Regions from separate parts of the Homo sapiens genome. Here region 2 is linked to region 1. Evidence: fine-mapped expression QTL. A gene starts in region 1. The other region holds a variant in brackets. All regions are shown on one strand. Distances are from middle to middle.

What was found. PIP is the estimated chance that this variant, and not a neighbour inherited with it, causes the effect.
Region 2: its variant is fine-mapped to the expression of CISD2 in whole blood (TOPMed, PIP 0.96).

The regions. Positions count from the first base shown.
Region 1 is chr4:102,864,998-102,874,992 of GRCh38, forward strand. It overlaps CISD2 (CDGSH iron sulfur domain 2), which reads left to right and starts at 3,995. Exons shown (of 3, transcript NM_001008388.5): 1 at 3,995-4,190. The coding sequence starts at 4,088. It also overlaps a transcript of UBE2D3 not described here. RefSeq lists an enhancer at 3,446-3,585 and silencers at 3,816-4,105, 4,136-4,255.
Region 2 is chr4:103,162,611-103,172,605 of GRCh38, forward strand. CENPE (centromere protein E) reads right to left here. Exons shown (of 49, transcript NM_001813.3): 17 at 869-943; 18 at 527-646. Among named protein-coding and RNA genes, the nearest start is that of CENPE, 31 kb to the right of the region's middle. The variant A/G (reference allele first, on the strand shown) is at 5,108.

The sequences.
Region 1 (9,995 bases):
CTCATGCACAAAAAGTAAGTACTGGGTTGAGTAAAGCCCTAATATGAAGAATATAAGTTTAAAACTTTTAGCAAAAACACAGGTGAATACCTTTGTGATTTAGGGGTAGAAAAAGATTTCTTAAACAAGACTCCCAGAACACAAATTGTAAAGAAAAAGATGAATAAATTTGACTACACCCAAACCAAATTTCAGTATAAAAACAGACATACACGGCCAGGCACGGTGGCTCACGCCTGTAATCCCAGCACTTTGGGAGGCAGAGGCAGGTGGATCATGAGGTCAGGAGTTCAAGACCAGCCTGGCAAATATGGTGAAACCTCGTCTCTACTAAAAATACAAAAATTAGCCGGGAGTGGTGGCGGGCGCCTGTAGTCCCAGCTACATGGAAGGCTGAGGCAGGAGGATCACTTGAACCTGGGAGGCAGAGGTTGTAGTGAGCTGAGATCGCGCCATTGCACTCCAGCCTGGGCAACAGAGACTCTGTCTCAACCAAAAAAAAAAAAAAAAAAGACATACACTAGGAGAAGATAAGCAACAGGAAAAGATAAGCAACCAATGTAACCAACAAGGTAATATTTTCCAGAAAACATGTACCAGTGAAACTGATGAACAAACCAATAGCACAGTGGGCAAAGATGTCAAGAGCAGACTAGTAGGCATTTGGAATTAGACTCCTAGAATTAAGATTAGCCTAAAGAAATCTGGGCTGGAAATAGAGATTTGGGCTATATCTTAACGATCATATTTGAATTTGGGGCACTGGATGACCTAATGGGAAAAAAACATGAAAGAAATAAAAGTCTTGGGCCTAGCTAGGACAGGCAGAAGATGAGTGATCCAAGCTCAAGTGCTTGAAAGTAAATAATGACTCCTTTAACTGTATTTACATATTTATCTTGAGTTTTCTGACCACAGTTTCTTTATGTCTTTTAAAGATGGAGTCTAAAAACACTATCGCATAAGGTGGTCAGATAAGCCTATTACATCTATTTAGAGCAATATTATCTTTAGACCATGTTTCATGTGCAGCCAAGAAGGCAGGGTTGTGGAAATGAAATACAAATATAAATGAAAACAGGATTTAAATTTTAAGTAAAGGGAATTTAAGAAAATATTCCTTTTAAGTGGATAATAAGGATTTTTAAATTGGTGGAGTTAGGAATTATCTCCTATTACACATTCGCATAGCTCATGTAATGCATCAGAATACCTAATATATGATCCACACCTTTTCTCTGAATTTCAAGGCCTCCCAAAAAAGTTTTATCCATATAGACTTGCATTCACTACATTTTTTCTACTTGAAAATAGCAAACCAGCTATTCACATAAACTGCTAAGAGGAAGTAAGCCAACCATAAAAAATTACATACTGTAAAATTACTTATATGTGAGGGTCAAAAACATGCACAGCAATACAGAATAGTAGTAATGGTGGTGGATGTGGTTGGAAGGGTCGCTTTTTAAAAACGCCTCTATTGAACATTCTGTATATTGATGTGGGTGGTGGTTACCTGGAACTGTACATTTGGCATTTGAGCATTTTACTATATCTTTAAATTGAGGTATGTATTTTTTAATTCTTTAAAGAAAAACTGCTTGGAGGTCTTATTCTTAATGCACAACAATCACAAACATTAAATTTATACAGTCCAGAGAATGTAAAGTTGCTTTAAAAAAATTCTTTCCTTTTCTCACTTTAAAATACCAAGGGGAAAAATTAAACTCAACACAGCACGTCTTGCCCTTGTCAAGATGACAGATCCTCTAAGAGAAGAAACGAATAGGTAATGGCCTTTTCCAGATTTTCTTTTCCTAATGTACCCCACTTCCAACCTACCCCTACCTCAACTAGGGTATCTAGTTGTACCCAAGGGTGCTTCTACATTAGATCCACAGAGATTAAAGATAACAGTTAACAGAATAGTCCAGAGGACAAGGATATTCAAGTTCCATCATCTTCAGGATAAAAAAGCTCCAGGGTTTACCTCCAAACTCTCTCTAAAGGAAATCCCATCAACCTTTTAAACATCACTTTGTATACACCATCTTCTATACTGCCCTAGCTCAAAAACATGAACCTGTATCTAAACGTGTTTGTAGAATTTCCATTGTAAGTTTTACTTTAACAATTTTGAACAATTATAATGATAGAAAATTATTTAATCTAGATTTTGGTCAACTCTATTACTGATATTCTTTTTTAGTGAAGGACAATCACAAACACTAAATTTATACAGTCCAGAGAATGAAAGATTGCTTTAAAAAATTCCTTCCTTTTCTCACTGTAAAATAAAAATACCAAGGGGAAAAATGGAAAGTATTTATTATAACTGGCTGTTACACTGTCATACACAATGAAATACTGGACCATTAGCAGTTCGTTATTATATGTTGTTAAGTGTAGAACTGTAAATAATGAGGCATATTATTAAGATATCACACACATTATCCAATCAGCAAGTGCACAACTTCGGACATTTTGACTTCAGCCAAAATATGAAACAAAGTCATAGCAAGAAAGTTATTTCAAGGGAGTGAAATTTTCTCCTCTTACCCTTCAAATCTTTTAGAGATATTAATAAAAACAACTATCCAGCCTGGGCGATATAATGGGACTCCATCTACATACACACAAAAATTTTTAAAATTCGTTGGGTGTGGCAGCACACGCCTGTAAACCCAGCTACTTGGAAGGCTGAGGCAGAAGGATCCCTTAAGCCGGAGTTAGAGTCTGCGGTGAGCTATGATCTGACCACTGCACTACAGCCTGGGCGATAGAGCGAAACCTTGTAACAACAACAACAACAACAAAATTAAAACCTTCAAGATCAAGCTTGCCCAACAGGATGGCTTTGAATGCCACTCAATGCAAATCTGTAAACTTTCTTAAAACTTTATGAAAAAAAATTTTTTTTTAGCTCATTAGCTACCATTAGTGTTAGTGTATTTATGTGTGGCCCAAGACAATTCTTCTTCCAGTGTGGCCTAGGGAAGCCATAAGGACCCCCTGCGCTAGACTTCAGCAGAAGCCTTGTAACATAAAGAAAACCATACATAAGGCTTTAGATTCTTTTTTTTTTTTTTTTTTGTGACGGAGTCTTGCTCTGTCTCCCAGGCTAGAGTGCAGTGGCACATTCTCGGCTCACTGCAACCTCCGCCTCCCTGGTTCAAGCGATTCTCCTGCCTCAGTCTCCCGAGTAGCTGGGACAGGCACCTGCCACCGCGCCCGGCTAATTTTTCTATTTTTAGTAGAGACGGGGTTTCACCATCTTGACCTGGCTGGCCTCGAACTCCTGACCTCGTGATCCACCCGCCTCGGCCTCCCTAAGTGCTGGGATTACAGACGTGAGCCACCGCGCCCGGCCAGCTTTGGATTCTTTTACCACTTTCCCGAAGGAAAAGGAACTGAAAATATCTAAGGAAGGACTACTACGAATCTTCTCTGAGTGGCAAAAACCAGAGGTTTTTGGAGCTAGGGCTGCAGTTAAGTTGCCAAGGGGCAGAGATGTAAACAGTTCCTGGTTTAGTTAAAATATTTTAATTTTTATTTTTTTAAGCCTGGCCTTTGGGTGAAGGAGTAAAATTAGGCACTGGGGTCTGGGTAGGGGGAGGATACTCATGGGCGAGTATGCAACCCTAGGGCCACAGCACCCAAACTGTAGGGGAAGAGGCGGGGCGAGAGGGGACGAAGTAGAGACAGCAAGAGACTCACTTTTGAAAGGCACTTTCGGTTAGAAAGCATTCTCACATGCTTATCTCATCGCACACAGTATCCTTTCTGCTGGTCTCCAGCATCTACAGACGTTAAAGGCCCAAGAGGAGGGCCACCTTCACACGAGATTCCGAGGAGGGCCTCGCTACCCGCCAGTTCCCGCGCCTCGGCAGTCCGCCGCGAGCGTACGTCACTCGCCCGCCGCCAATCGGCGCCCGGCAGGTCACCTCTCCTCCCAGGGCCCGCCGCCCCGCCCGCCGCCCAGGCCGAGGCCGCCAGTGCCCGCCGGCCGCTTCCGCTCCCGGCGCAGGCGCGGCAGCTTGGCCAGAGCGGAGGGGGCTCGGGAGAGGAGTGGACGCCGCTGGCCAGGATGGTGCTGGAGAGCGTGGCCCGTATCGTGAAGGTGCAGCTCCCTGCATATCTGAAGCGGCTCCCAGTCCCTGAAAGCATTACCGGGTTCGCTAGGCTCACAGGTAATCCTCCCCCATCAGCCAGTCCCCATCCTTGCACGTTCGCCAAGCGGGGGAAGGAGGCGTAAAAATCCTAGGGCCAAGGGGCGGGACGGAGCTCGGCGCCTGGCACGTGATCCCCGCGCGCAGAGGAAGGTGGGCGCGCGCCGACGCAGCTGCCTGGGGAACGCCTGTGAGGCAGTCTCCGGGTGCTTGATGCCCCAGGGTCTTTTGTCCTCGGAGTTGTCTCCGGTGTCATTCCGTGGCAAGATACCAGGTTTTTGCAGAGAAGGTGCTGAGTTGGGAACAGGCCAGTCTCTTTCATCTCCTGTCCTGCTCATCGCTCTCTGTAGCGTACTTGTTTATTTTAAAGCGGGCTAAGTCGTCGTTATCTAAGGCCTCATGTAACAGGCAGCCCCAGCTACCGGCTGGGTTGTACCCTCAGCATGTGGGTGGGAGTGTGTGGGAGAGAAATATAGACTTACACGTAACACGTATATGACCGTTTTATTTAGTAACGAAATTAGGAGATAACCTCCATTCCCTCAGGTTAGAATTGACCTATCATAGGTGGCATTTGAGGTCATCTCCGTTTCTACGGTCCCGGGGCCCGCTGCGGTAACTTAAGTTGGAAGAAAGATACCTTACCCAAGAAAGTATTCGAAGGCCGGTATGAGGAGTGAAATCTTAGAAAATGAAATTTAGTGAATATATGTAACGTTCTATACTTAAGGACCCTCACTTAACCCACACAACTCATGAGGATTTCACATCTAAAGGATGAAAATCTCCAGAATGCAGTCAACACTTGGGAGATTGTGTTGAGTTATGAGCATTTCATTGTAAGGGGGATATTTCTAAACGGAACTCAGACCGAGTAGGATGGTGAAGGAATCAGCAAGTATTGAACTCCTATGTCCTAGGTTATCAGGGAGTGCAAACATGAATTAAGATAATTCTGAGGTAAATAGGGTTGCTTCGCCGGGAACGTTCTAAAGATCTGTAGTACCTGACCTAAAATACAGCAATCGCACAGCTGTCTGGTAGAAGAAAAATAAGATTTGTGTAGACTAAAATATAGAACTGATAACAAATTAACCAAATTAGTGAAGGTTATTGGGAGGTGAATTTCAGTCTAAGGAAGATTTTTTTTTAAATTAAAGAATGCTTTCCCCAAACAAATGTGGTGCTTCAGTGATAGCCCCTCTCAAAGATGAAAAAAACAAACAAAAAGACTCTGGTGGTGGGTGGTCGATAGATTTAGAAGGGATAAACTAGATGACAAATTCTCTTCCAAATCTAGAGATTCATTGAATTATGGTCAGACAGACGCTCTGTTGAGTGGATTGTGAGATTTTAATATTTTTTAAATATTAAGAGTTTTAGTAGAAAACATGCAATTGAATAGAAAGCATGGTAACAATAATAAACATTAAAAAGGAACATTAAACATCAGAAGCAATGCAAAAGTAAAATAAAATGAAAAACGTTTCACATCAAGTGTTTATAAACATCAGATCTTTTGATCCTACCAGTTTACTCTGACAGAATTGCAGCAATTCCATAAAATTTTGGCTTTCCCCACTTCTTTTACTTAAGTACTTTACATATTTTAATATAATCCTCATTTTTTCCCTAACAACTAAATACTTATTTTAGTTTTAACATCACAATGGGCCTAACCATTCATTCCCTTACAACTGGAAATTAGAAATGTTTCTATTTTTTAAAATTCATTATGTAATAGTTCATTGGCAAGTAAGCAAATACCAGTTGTCATATTTCTCCCTTTTGGATGTCTTCACTTAAATAGCAATACCAGGCCAAAACGGTATGATCATATTGTGACTTTTGTACCCTTTTGTCATTTTGACATTTGTACCTTCTTACTAATTTGCATAAGTTAACTGTTGAGGAATTTTTAACAGTCAAGAAAGGAAAATGTCCAATGAATTACCTATGTTTTTTCCAGATGGTGGCTGCATTTGTATTAGTTTCGATTCTCTGTAAATCAAGTATAATTGAAGAAAATTAGAAAGTATGAAACTAGATTTAATGGCTAGATTTTAGAAGTATGCTTTCTTTTCTTGAGGATCCCTAGTGTCAACAAATATTTAATTCCTATTAAAGACATTAAGAAAACTCAACCAAAACCTTTTCTCTCTTAAGAATATATAGTAACTTCCTCTTAAAAGTTGTTAAATATTTAATATGAAGACTGATTCTCAGAAATAATGACCATTCTGAGAAGTATTTTAATAACATACATTTAACTTAAGTCCCATTACAGTGTGGCTATAGTTAATAGTTCTCATTTTATTGCTGGTTTATTTAGGAAACATGAACATGCTTGTAATAACTGGTTTATGAAAAACATGAGATAGCCCTTTTTGGATTGGACAAAACAATTGCAGGGTTTATTTTGGAGTACTATAGAAGAAAAATTTCAGTGGCTATTTTCCACTCTCGGTCTCCCATTCTGAATAGATTGTAACAGTTAATGACATTTGGCTTTCTTAAATGAGTTACTTGTAGAATCCATAATGTACACTTTTGTTAAAATAAAAACCTGGAAGACAACTTTTTAGCAATTGTTTAAAATGTCTAGGAGACCAAAAAATATTTCCATTTTCTTCTATGAAAATTAGAGCAAAAAACAATACAGTTCACATTATTATTGCCTACATTTCCTTCCCTATTTAAATCTAGCTGTTTTTTAAAGCTATTGACTCTCTTATGATGACTCTGCATTCTTAGAAACCACATGGAGATCTTTAATGACCATATACTAGTTAAATACAGGCAGTTCTCACCTATCAGAAACAACTTAACTATCTTTGTTTATGTCACATTTTCAAGAGTGAGGCGTTCAAGATAAATTACTGTGATTATCTAATTTATGTTTAACTTAGGTTTTTGTTTTGTTTTGTTTTTTGAGAGGGAGTCTCTTTTGCCCACACTGGAGTGCAGTGTCGGCTCACTGCAACCTCTGCCTCCTGGGTTCAAGCGATGCTTATGCCTCAGCCTCCTAAGTAGCCGGGACTACAGGCATGTGCCACCATGCCTGGCTAATTTTTTGTATTTTTAGTAGAGACGGAGTTTCACCATGTTGGCCAGTCTGGTCTTGAACTCCTGACCTCAGGTAATCCGTCTGCCTCGGCCGCCCAAAGTGCTGGGATTACAGGTGTGAGCCACTGCGCCCAGCCCTACCTTAGGTTTTAAGTGGTAATAGTAAACTCATGCATTGAAAATATTTTATCTTTTCTACAGTTAAGAAATAGAAATAATTTCTGTGTTTAGCTACATATGATAAATGAGAAAATATGTTATAAAATAACTAGCAACCAAGCTGCCAGTATTATTTTTATGGTATCATAAGATGATATGGCTATATTATATGTAGATGTTTGAAAATTTGAAATGGAAAAATTCTGTTCTAGTTCTGTGGAATGTAATTCCTCATTAAGATCGGAGTTTGTCTATGTCATTTTTATGTCATTTTATGTCATTTTTAGCTATTATTAAAAAATGTTTTAATAATAGTATTTATATGTCATAAGGAATAGGTGTCATAGCTAGCCTGTGTCACTATATATAATAAAAGGTTAAACCTAATTTTGTTTCCCAAAGAAGATACTTCATTTTGACAATGTCTAAACTTTCAGAAAATTTATGCTAAAATTGGTAGCTACCGTATTATTCCGTTTTCATACTGCTATAAAGAACTACGCAAGACTGGGTAATTTATAAAGGAAAGAGGTTTAATCCACTCACAGTTCAGCATGGCTGGGGAGGCCTTAGGAAACGTACAATCATGGCGGAAGGCGAAGGGGAAACAAGGCACCTTCTTCACATCATGGCAGGAAGTAGTGCCGAGCAAAGGAGGAAGAGCCCCTTATAAAACCATCAGATATCATGAGAACTCACTCACTATCACCAGAACAGCATGGGGGATACCACACCCATAATCCAATTACCTCCACCTGGTCTTTCCCTTGGCACGAGATTATGGGGATTATAATTCAAGATGAGATTTCAGTGGGGACACAAAGCCTGACCAAATCAGCTATTCAAGTTGCTTTGAAATTTTCTTTTCTGACTAGATTTTGGTTTTCTTTTGTGAGAAAGGGTTTCACTCTGTTGCCCAGGCTGGAGTGCAGGTGGCATGATCTCTACCCACTCATTGCAGCCTTGACTTCACAAGCTCAAGCCATCCTCCCACCTCAACCTCTTGAGTAGCTGGTACTACAGGTGCACGCTACCACACCTGGCTCATTTTTTTGTATCTTATTTTAGAGACGGGGTTTTGCCATGTTGCCCAGGCTGGTCTTGAGCTCCTGAGCTTAAGCTATCCACTCACCTCAGCCTCCCAAAGTGCTGAAATTATAGGTGTGAGGCACTGTGAGTGGCCTAGATTTTGTTTCTCTGATGGTGCTGGTTCTTTCATTCTTCCTTTTTGGTCCTGTTATTTATCTTAATAGTGGGATACGTGGAAGGCTGAGGCAAGAGAATTGCTTGAGTCGTGGCACTACATTCCAGCCTAGGCAGCAGAGCGAAACCGTCTCAAAAAAAAAAAAAAAAAAAAAGGGATGTAAAAGTCAATATGTATATTAGGTCCTTGCTCAGTATTGAGCTCAATAAGAAGATGAACAACTCACATTTAAAAATTGGCAAAACAGGCCAGGTACGGTGTGGCTCATGCCTTTAATCCCACCGCTTTGGAAGGCTGAGGCAGGCAGATCACTTGAGGTTGGGAGTACGAAACTAGCCTGGCCAACATGGTGAAACCCCGTCTCTACTAAAAATGCAAAAATTAGCCGGGTGTGGTAGTGCACACTTGTATTCTCAGCTACTCAGGAGGCCAAGGCAGGAGAATCGCTTGAACCCAGGAGGCAGAGGTCACAGTAAGCTGAGATCGTGCCACTGCACTCCAGCCTGGGCAACAGAGTAAGACTCTGTCTTCAAAAAAAAAAAAAAATTGGCAAAACAGAAAAATGAACAAAATCTTATCCTTTGCAGCAATATGGATGCAGCTGGAGACCATTATCCTAAGGAGATTAACACAGAAACAGAAAACCAAATAACACATATTCTTACAACTGGGAGCTAAACATTGTGTATTCATGGACATGAAGATGGCAACAGTAGACACTGGGAACTGCTAAAGGGGAGGGAGGCAGGAGGTCAAGGGTTGAAGACTATTGGGTACTATCCTCACTACCTAGGTGGGAGGATCAGCCATATCCCAAACCTCAGCATCACACAATATACCCATATGACAAACCTGCACATTTACCTCCTCAACCTAAAATAAAAGTCGAAATTATATTAAAATATTTTAAAAAGGAAATTTGGGCACACACAAAGGGAGAACACCATGTGAAGATGGAGGCAGAGATTGGGGTGATAGACCTACAAGCTAAGGGACACCACAGCTTCTCCCTCAGATCCTCCAGAAAGAATCAACCATGCTGACACCTTGATTTTGGACTTCTCGCCACTAGAACTGTGAGTGAATACGTTTCTGTTGTTTTAAGCTAAAAAAGAAAACGAAAATGCAAGCACGAACACATTGTTCTCTGCAGTTTAGGGAATCCTAGTAGAGACTACTGCTCACATTTGTTCTCTCTTCTCTGCTTTAATGGCCACTACCTTAGTTTTATCTCAAACTATTTTCTTCCAGACCATTTCCATGGATTTTCAACAGGTTGTCTTGCCTTGTCTTCTTCCACTAGCCCTCTCTGCTATTCCTGTGGCCCTCTAATCCATCTTCCATCTGATACCAGAGTGACTTCATAGGTGAACAATTTCCTAGTTAGGCTAATATTC
Region 2 (9,995 bases), 300 kb after region 1:
TGCCCAGGCTGGAGTGCAATGGCATGATCTCGGCTCATGGCAGCCTCAACCTCCCAGGCTCAAGCAATCCTGCCACCTCAGTTACCCAAGTAGCTGGCAGTACCTGCCAGGCTTATTTTTGTATATTTTGTACAGACCAGGTCTCACTATGTTGCCCAGGCTGGTCTTGAACTCCTGGGCTCAAGTGATCTCCCACTTCGGCCTCCCAAAGTACTGGCATCACAGGGATGAGCCACTGTGCCCTGGCCTAAAACTTACTGATTTTTAATGGGAGCCTGTCCTTAACTTCCTTATATTTACTCAAAGGATGACATGATCAACTTTCCACAAATGTGACTTTATCTCTAAAATGGCAAATATACTAACAGTCCCTATCTCATAGGGTTATTGACAGATTTAATGAAATATATATAAATTTATTACAACAATACACAGCACAAAGTAGGTCCAGTATAAGCATTTGCTAAGATGATGGTATGCTATATATATTTATGTGATTACACAACAAAATACGCCTGATTTTTACCAATGAGTATGACAAGTCCATTTTTATATTTTCTAGCTTTTGAGAGTCTATGTATTCCTGTAGCTTCTTAATCTGGTCTTCCTTTTCTCTAAGCAGCTCTACTTTTGAACTGAGTTCATTCTAAAAGAATCAAAGGAGAGAGTAACAATTTAGAATCTGATTTGAAGTCTAAGGGATTAAAACAGAACTTATATATATTAGTTTAAATTCATAGTAAAATTCAAAGTCACTAATATTTTAAAAACATAATTCCCTTATTTCTGACATCATGTTCAGTTACATATGTTGCATGTTTTATAGTTCTAATTGCTTATCAATAGAAATACCAACATGAATGCTCACCTCAAGATCTTGATTATATACTTCTGCATGCTTAACTAAATTCTTTAAGTTCGAAATTTCATGAATTAGTTGCATCTGTAAGAGCATGTGAACAGGTAACAGAGCAAACCAATAGTTAATAAAGCAAAGCAAAAAAAAAAAAAAAAAGAAAAAGAAAAAAAAGGGCACTGGTTCACTGCTTCAGAATCACCCAACAGTTAGAAAGGACTGAGATCAATTGTTCAAGCTATCGCAACAAAGCACCTCATTATTTAAAAATACTAGAAATATCACCCAAAACATATCAAACAAATAAAAAAAAACCCCTCAGCATGACCCCACCAAGTAGCTATATCATCTGTTAATAAAGCTACAATAATGTCAATAGCAAATTAGTATGCACTACTTGGAGGAGAGATTTAAAAAGTGGTAATCAAACCTTGAAAAATACACGTTTAGTAGATTTTTGTTTTCAGTCAGTTAAGTACAGAAATGTATTAATTCTTATAAAGTTTTTTCTTCCCATAAAGTATCCATCAGCTCTACATTAGTGTACTTTTTAATAAGTTCTGATTTGGAATCTAGGTTTGGATTAGGGTTGTTTCATGCAGTGCCTTTACAATATTATTACTTTTCACCAGTGCTACACAGGTATGGAATGATCAACTATGACCTTGATTTATTCCAGAGGAAATATTGCACTCCATTATATTGTTCAACCATGTAAAAGTATAAAGGTAGAAGTATTTCTATTGAGGTGTCCTTTCTACCAAAATATCTGTAGCATTAAATATCTGAGTACCAAAAAGTTTGTTGAAAACAAGTAAACCACACATAACCAAGATAAACATTTTCCCTTAGAATTATTTAATCTTCATAATCAGATGAGCACTTACAGAGTAAAAGCAAATTCTAATAGTATGTAAGGGGCTTGAAAATAGTATCTTATTTAAATATTTTCTGGATGTTTAACTGAGTCCTGACTAGTTTTAAATTTCAGACTAGTGCAAGTGTTGACATTACTATTTTAGGTCAGTGCTATCCAAGAGAAACATAATGTCAGACACATATGTAATTTAAAATTTCCTAGTAGGCACATTAAACCTAAAAAGAAAAAGGCAGAATTAACTTTGAGAACATATTTTATTCAACCTAATATATCAAAAATATTTCTTCCAAAATGTTTCTTCAGGTAATCTATCCAACATGTTTCTTTAGGTAATCAATATAAAAAAAATGAACAATTTTACATTCTTTTTTATATACTATGTCAATTCAGTCTGGTCCCATTTCAAGTGCTTAATTGCCACATATGGTTAGTGGCTACCCCACTGTAGAACACAGTCTTAGACATTTGTACTGCTTTTAATTTAAATTGGCTCCTTCTTTCACCTTTTCTTCCTTATTTTTAACTTCTGTGAAAGAAAATCACATTTACCAATAAGAAAGAATCAAAAATCAATCTTAACTTTTAAAAATACTTAGAAGAGATCGGGTGCATTCAGGGTAGTATGGCCATAGATAATGAAAACATTTAAAGAATACTAATTTAGAAAAGAAAATTTTCCTACTTCTTATTTGAAATAGCACTTTATCTTAGTACTGGTTCTTATGCATAGAAAATAATTAGCTTTTATAAAAATAAAAGTGTAATCTCCCAATGACATGTTTAAGATGCAGAGCATGAAGTGAAAGTGTGTGAAAAGGAAAAATGATTTAAACATATGATCTGATCTACAGTTAATCCATTGCTACCATTTAAATTGCAGATTTAAATGGTAATTGTCATTAGGTGAAATGAAATATTTAACTTACATCTCCAAGTAGTAAAAATTATAAAATTAAATACACCAAGTTAAAATAGGTAGACGGTAAAGATTTTTCTCATTCCTCGAGTATGGTGATACTTGACATTTTCCATTCTCCCTCTAAAACATACTATTTAAGCATCTCATGTTACTATATTCCCACTAGAAAATTATCTACAACTTGGGTGATTTTTGACAAAAGCTTTAGGAAAACCAGGGAAATGGCTCCATGTCCTAAGGCCAATTTGACTTTTATTCCCTTTTAGCTAAACCTTTCCCCAAAATGTAGGTTTTGGAACATATTTTGCTACATACACATAGACTTATATTTTTAGTTTAACATGGACTAGATACTGCAAAACTGGTTTTGAACAGGATGTTTTTATTACATAATCTTTTAAGTAACCTTAAATTTTGTGTCGAATTAAAAGTAAAGGGCCTAGAGCAGTGGCTCACACCTGTAATCCTAGCACTTTGGGAGGCCGAGGCGAGCAGATCACTTGAGCCCAGGAATGTGAGACTAGCCTGGCCAACATGGCAAGACCCCCGTCTCTATAAAGAAAAAGTTTTTTAATTATATGTCTTTTAGATTAGAAAGCTGAGCTTTGTGTTTTAAAAAAAAAAAAAAGAAAAAAAAGAAAAAGAAATTTAAAAAGAACGGAGTAGGATTCTTCCTCCTCAACTGTGGTTAAAATGGGAGAAAAACTGCAGTGTGATACATGTCATATATTCTGTGGTATTTTTGTAATCTTTCTCTGTGTTGACTCAATTCAATAAGCTTCAATTTTTCTTATTAATATATTAATGATGTGAGAAAAATATTAGAGAAATTATTACCACTTATCCCAAACGTTAGTTTTATGTCATGTTATTATCACATATAAAAAACATACAAAAATTAGATGAAATTTTAAAGTCAGAAGGGACCTTGGTGAGCATCTGGTCTCTACTTCAAGGGTGGAGAAATACAGGAAGCCCTGAGATTCAGTGACTTGCCCAAGGCCTTGGCAACAATTCATAATAGGATTGGATCTGCGGTAAGTTTATAAGTGGCAAAACTGCGGCTTAAATCCAGGCAATTTCACTCTAGAGACCATGTTCTTAATCATGACACTAGGCCAGTCCCTTCCATAAAACCTAGTTTTATTGATTAAAGTCCAATGGTTTTGTCATGCATGACATTTTGCACTTCATTAACATGCATTTTAAAACAAGCTAAATGAAACCCTGTGGAGAACTTATAGACTTTTACCTCTTTGAATATAGTACCTATGAAATAAAGCAATAATTTTAATTTGTAGGTAGAATGGAAATAATAGCTTTGGCATAGAATTCTTTTTTCCTTTAAAAATGAAAAGAGGTTGAGAAACTGAACAATGATATCGAGGAAAAAGGGTCATGGCCTTTTGGGCTAGCCACATAGAAGTCTGAAGAGTAGCTGCAAATTAATTCATCTTTTAACTACATAAAACACTGGGTCTTATTTTTTTTTGAAGGGGGGATGTTCACGAATCACTTTGCAAGTCTGATAACAACTACAGATTCTTGTTCCAGAAAAATGAATATGCATTGAAAAATTCTGCAAAATAATTTCACAGCATCTGTGGCCTCTAGGTTAAGGACACTTTACACTAATAACTCCCTTTAATCTTTTGGACAATTTCTGAGTCCCTAAAGTCTGATGGTTTCTGGATTAAGTTCTCTTAACGTGTAGCCTAATATTTTATACTTAGAAAATGAGTGATCTGTTTCTATAAATTCCATTATAACTATTTAGTATTAGTTATACTAATTTTCACATAACTCTCTTAGATGGAGAAGGAAAAACAAAACGTACAAAATTAGCTTCTCCAGCTATTCTAATGTTTTAATTATTTAGAAACATACTTTCTAAAGAAAAAGAAATCCATTAATATGTAGCATCCATATATAAAATAGTCATCTAGATATTAAAATTCATACTGATCTCAGTAGGAAACTGCTGTGCTCTAGGTAGCATTTATATATGCTCAATAAAATGTAATATACAAACTATAAGGAAACAATTTCAAGACAAATCCATCAAGAGGTAGATACACCAACCCTTCCCATAGATGCTTTTAATTCCTTTTTCTCTTGCATAAGCACCAGGGAAAGAAACATGATTTAACTATTTTTAAAATATAAATGAAGAAAATATTTCTTAAATTTTCTAAATTGTATATACATATGAAAAATGGTTAGATCTTCAACATCTCAATCTTAGAAAAAAAAATCTTTAAGACAATACTTCTGAGTGATGTCAAGAAGATGACAGAATAGGAGGTCACCTGCTCACATCCCCCCAAAACAACAAGAATTCTGTACCTATTACAGACAAGTCTTTTTGTGGGAGCCTTTGGATTCAGGTAGGAGGTTGTAAAACCCCAGTAGAACTCAAGACCTGGAAGTGTTGTTTTTGAGAGTGCATACC[A/G]ACACCCAGGTGGGAGTCCTGCCAATTGTGCTCCCAGGTTCATATGCAGAAATGGTCCCATTCCTTGAAGGACTTAGCTACAGCCCTGTTTGGCCTAGAGTCTGCAACCAAAACTATCTGTCAAGGGGTCCAGGAGAAATCACACACTCTAGGGTCTCGGCAGATGGGCTCTTCTGCCTGTCGACATTGGTCTTGGCAGTGGACCCAAAAGTTAGCCTATAACTTGGCTCCTGCCCTCCTCAAGCTGTAGTCCTAGCTTAGTACTGCTTGCACAAGGACCCAGAAGGGAACATGCCCATCTGAGCCACCAGGACAGGCTTGCCGGCCTCTGTCTCATAGCAGATTCCGACGGGGACATGTACTGGCTCCAGCCCTCCCCTGCTGCAGCCTCCCTGCTCTCACCCACACAGAGAACTGCCAAGAGATGAACCTGTCTGAGCCACTGGGTCAGGCTTGCAGTCCTCCATCCCACAATAGACTGAAGGGGCCCTGTCTCAGCTTCAATGCCTCTTTGCTGCAGTCAGGAAGCTATCTCGACTGTATTGGGAACTGCTGGGTGAAGCACCTGCCCCAGCCACCAGGACAGGTTTCATGCATCTTTCCCATAATAGATCCTAAAGCAGTCTTGTCTTGACTGCAGCCCCTCTCTACTGCAGCCTGGCAGTTATCCTGCCTGTGTAGGACAGGCCTGCTGGCTTCCATCACATAGCAGTTCTGGAAAGAACCTTGAATGTCACAGCTACAGAATGCAAGCAATCCTCCCTGCATAAGGAACTGCTGGGAGTCTTGACTGCTGGTGCCACCAGGTTAAGCTTACCAACATTGGTTCCATAGCACATTCTGAATTAACTCTGAAGCTTGGTTTCAGTTTCTCCTAGCGATAGTCTGAGAATGGTTTTACCCAGCCGGGGTCCTACCGGGAGACAGGCGTATCCAAGTCCCTGTGGCAGGTTTTGCAACCCTTGTCCATCAGCAGATTCTCAAATGGCCCTGGATCTTGATACTGACCCCTCTCATCTGTGGAATAAGAACAGCTCTGCCCACCTGGGGACCTAAAGAGAAAGGTGTCCAGTAGTGCCTCTGCAGGATAACATGGTGACCTCAGTCATACTATAGATCTTGAAAAGACCTTATAAAGATGGTGAAGACTAAAACAAATAGCTACATTCATCTTCAATGTGCAGACACTGCTGCATGACCACAAGCATCATGATCAGGGAAACATGATGTCACCAAAAGCACAAAGTAAGATACTGGTGACTGATCCTAAAAGATGGAGATGTATTATCTGCCAAAGAATTCAAAATAGCTATTTTAAGCGAGCTCAGCAAACCTCAAGAAAACATAGAGAAACAATCCAGAAATTTATCAAGGAGACTGAAATAATAAAAAAACCAAACAGAAATCCTAGAGCAAGAAAATACAATGAACAAAATGAAAAATGCAACAAAGAACATCAATAGAAGAATGGATCATGCAGAAGAATTTGTGAGCTTGAGACAGGCTATTTTAAAATATAGAGTCAGGAGGCAAAAAAAAAAAAGGATGAAAAGGAATGAAGTTTATGGGACAACATCAAAAAAGCAAATATTTGGGTCACTGCAGTTCAAGTAGAGAAAAATAAAGGGACAGAAAGCTTATTTAAAGAAATAATAGCAGAAAATTCCCAAACCTGAAGAAAGCAATACATATCCACATATAGGAAGGTCAAAGGTTACCAATCAAATTCAATCTAAATGACCCTGCCCTAAGATATATTATATTCAAACTCAAAAGTCAAAGACAAGGAGAAAATCCTAAAAGCAGCAAAGCAGCAAGAGTAAAGAGGCAAATAACATAGAAGGGAGTTCCATTATGGTTAGCAGTAGACTTCTAAGCAGAAATCTCACAGGCCAGGATCATTAAAAAGTCAGGAAACAGATGCTGGAGAGGATGTGGAGAAATAGGAATGCTTTTACACTGTTGGTAGGAGTGTAAATTAGTTCAACATTGTGGAAGACAGTGTGGCAATTCCTCAAGGATCTAGAACTAGAAATAACATTTGACTCAGCAAGCCCATTACTGAGTATATACCCAAAGGATTATAAATCATTCTACTATAAAGACACATGCACACGTATACTTATTGCAGCATTGTTTACAACAGCAAAGACTTGGAACCAACCCAAATGCCCCTCAATGATAGACTGGATAAAGGAAATGTGGCACATATACACCATGGAATACTACGCAGCCATAAAAAAGGATGAGTTCATGTCCTTTGCAGGGACATGGATGAAGCTAGAAACCATCATTCTCAGCAAACTAACACAAGAACAGAAAACCAAACACCACATGTTCTCACTTATAAGTGGGAGTTGAACAATGAGAACTCATGGACACAGGGAGGGGAACATCACACACTGGGGCCTGTTGGGGATTGGGGGCCTAGGGGAGGGATGGCATTAGGAGAAATACCTAATGTTAAATGACGAGTTAATGGGTGCAGCACACCAACATGGCACATGTATACCTATGTAACAAATCTGTATGTTATGCACATGTACCCCAGAACTTAAAGTATAATTAAACAACAACAACAACAACAAAGAGGAATCTCACAGGCCAGGAGGGAGTGCAATGATATAGTAAAAGTACTGAAGGAAAACAGTTGTAACATCAAAAGTTAGAAAATCAAATATTCAGAAAGTGGGAGGAGATAAAGTGTGGAGTTTGTTTGTTTGTTTAGTAATCAATGATAATCTGTTATCAGTTTAAAATAACCTGCATAACTGTAAGACTTTTTCTTGTAAGCCTGATGGTAACCACGAAGGAAAAAAACCTATAATAAATACACTAAAAATAGAAAGGTATCAAAACATACTATCAGAGAAAATAATTTATCCAATAAGGAAGACAGTGAGATAAGATAAAAGGACCTAAAAAACAAATAAGAAAATAATTAGCAAAATGGAAGTAGTAATTTCCTACCTATCAGTAGTTCCTACCTATCAATGTAAATGGACTGATTCTCCAATTATAAGATAGAGTGGTTGAATGGATTAAAAAATCCAAATATATGCTGCCTGAAAGAGATTAACTTCACCTGTAAGGATACAAATAGATGGAAAGGAAGGGGTGGAAAAAGATATTCCATGCAAACTGAAATTGTAAGAGAGCAGGAGAAGCTATACTTATATCAGCTAAAATAGACTTTACATCAAAAACTGTGAAAAGAGACAAGGTCATTACATAATGATAAAGGGGTCAACTCAGCAAGAGGTTGTAACAATTGTAAATATATATGCACACTGAACATGGCAGAATATATATAAAGCAAATATTAATCTGAAGGAAGAGAGACTGCAACACAATAATAATAGAGGATTTTGAAACTACACTTTCAGCAATGGACAGATTATTCAGACAGAAAATCAACAAAGAAATAGCAGATTTAAACTGCAGTCTAGACCAAAGAGACCTAACAGATGTTTACAGAACATTCCATTCAACAGCTGCAGAAAACACATTCTTATCAACTGCACATGGAACATTCTCTAAGACAGATCATATTAGGCCACAAAAACAGTCTTAAAAAATTTAAAATCAAAATTATATCAAGTATCTTTTCTGACCACAATGACATAAAACTAGAAATTAATAATAGCAGAAATTCTGGAAATATTACAAATACATAAAAATTAAACACGCTCCTGAACAACCACTGGGTTAATGAATTAAAAGAGTAATTTTAAAAAGCTAAGACAAATGAAAATGGAAACACAATATACCAAAATGTATAGGATGCAGCAAAAGCAGTTCTAAAAGAGAAGTTTATAGTAATAAACATCTACATCAAAAAAGAGGAAAGAAATCAAACTACCTAAACTATTACCTCGAAGAATTAGAAAAACAAGAACAAACTAAACCCCAAATTAGCAAATGGAAAGAATAAAGATCAGAGCAGAAATAAACAAAATAGGGACTTTAAAAAAATCCACAAAATAAAGAGTTTTTTTTTTTTGAAAGAAACAAAATCAACAAACCTTTAGCTAGACTAGGTAAAAAAGACAGTCGACTCAAATAAATAAAATCAGAAATAAAAAAGGAGACATTACAATTGATACCACAGAAATACAAAGAACAATTATATGCCAATAAATTGAAAAACCTAGAAGAAATGAATTCCTCTACCACATTACCTACCAGGACTGAATTATGAATAAATAGAAAACCTGAACAGGCCAGTAATGAGAAAGGAGACTTGAATCAGTAATAAAAAGTCTCCTATCAAAGAAAGGCCCAGGACCTGATGGCATCACTGCTGAATTCTACCAACAGTTACAGAAGAACTAATAGCAATTCTTCTCAAAGTATTCCAAAAAATTGAAGAGGAAGGAATTTTTCCTAACTTATTCTACAAGGCCAGCATTACACTGATACCAAAAATAGACAAAAAAGGAAAACTATAGGCCAATATCCCTGAAGAACAGACAGAAAAACCCTGAACAAAATACTATAAAACTGAATTTAACAGCACATTTAAAAGATAATTCACCATGAACAAGTGGGATTTATCCCAGGAATATAAGAATGGTTCATCATAAACAAATCAATAAACATGACATACCGCATTAACAAAACAATGAAAAAAAGTCATACAATCACTTCAACAGATGCAGAAAAATCATGACAGAGTTCAATACCTCTTCATGATAAAAACTCTTAATTAGGTATAGAAGTGATATGCCTCAACACAATAAAGGCCACATACAACAAACCCACTGCTAATGTAATACCAAATGGGGAAAAGCTGAAAGCCTTTTACTCTAAGATCTAGAACAGGATAAGGATGTTCCCTTTTGCCACTTTTATTCAACATAGTACAGGAAGTTCTAGCTAGAGCTAT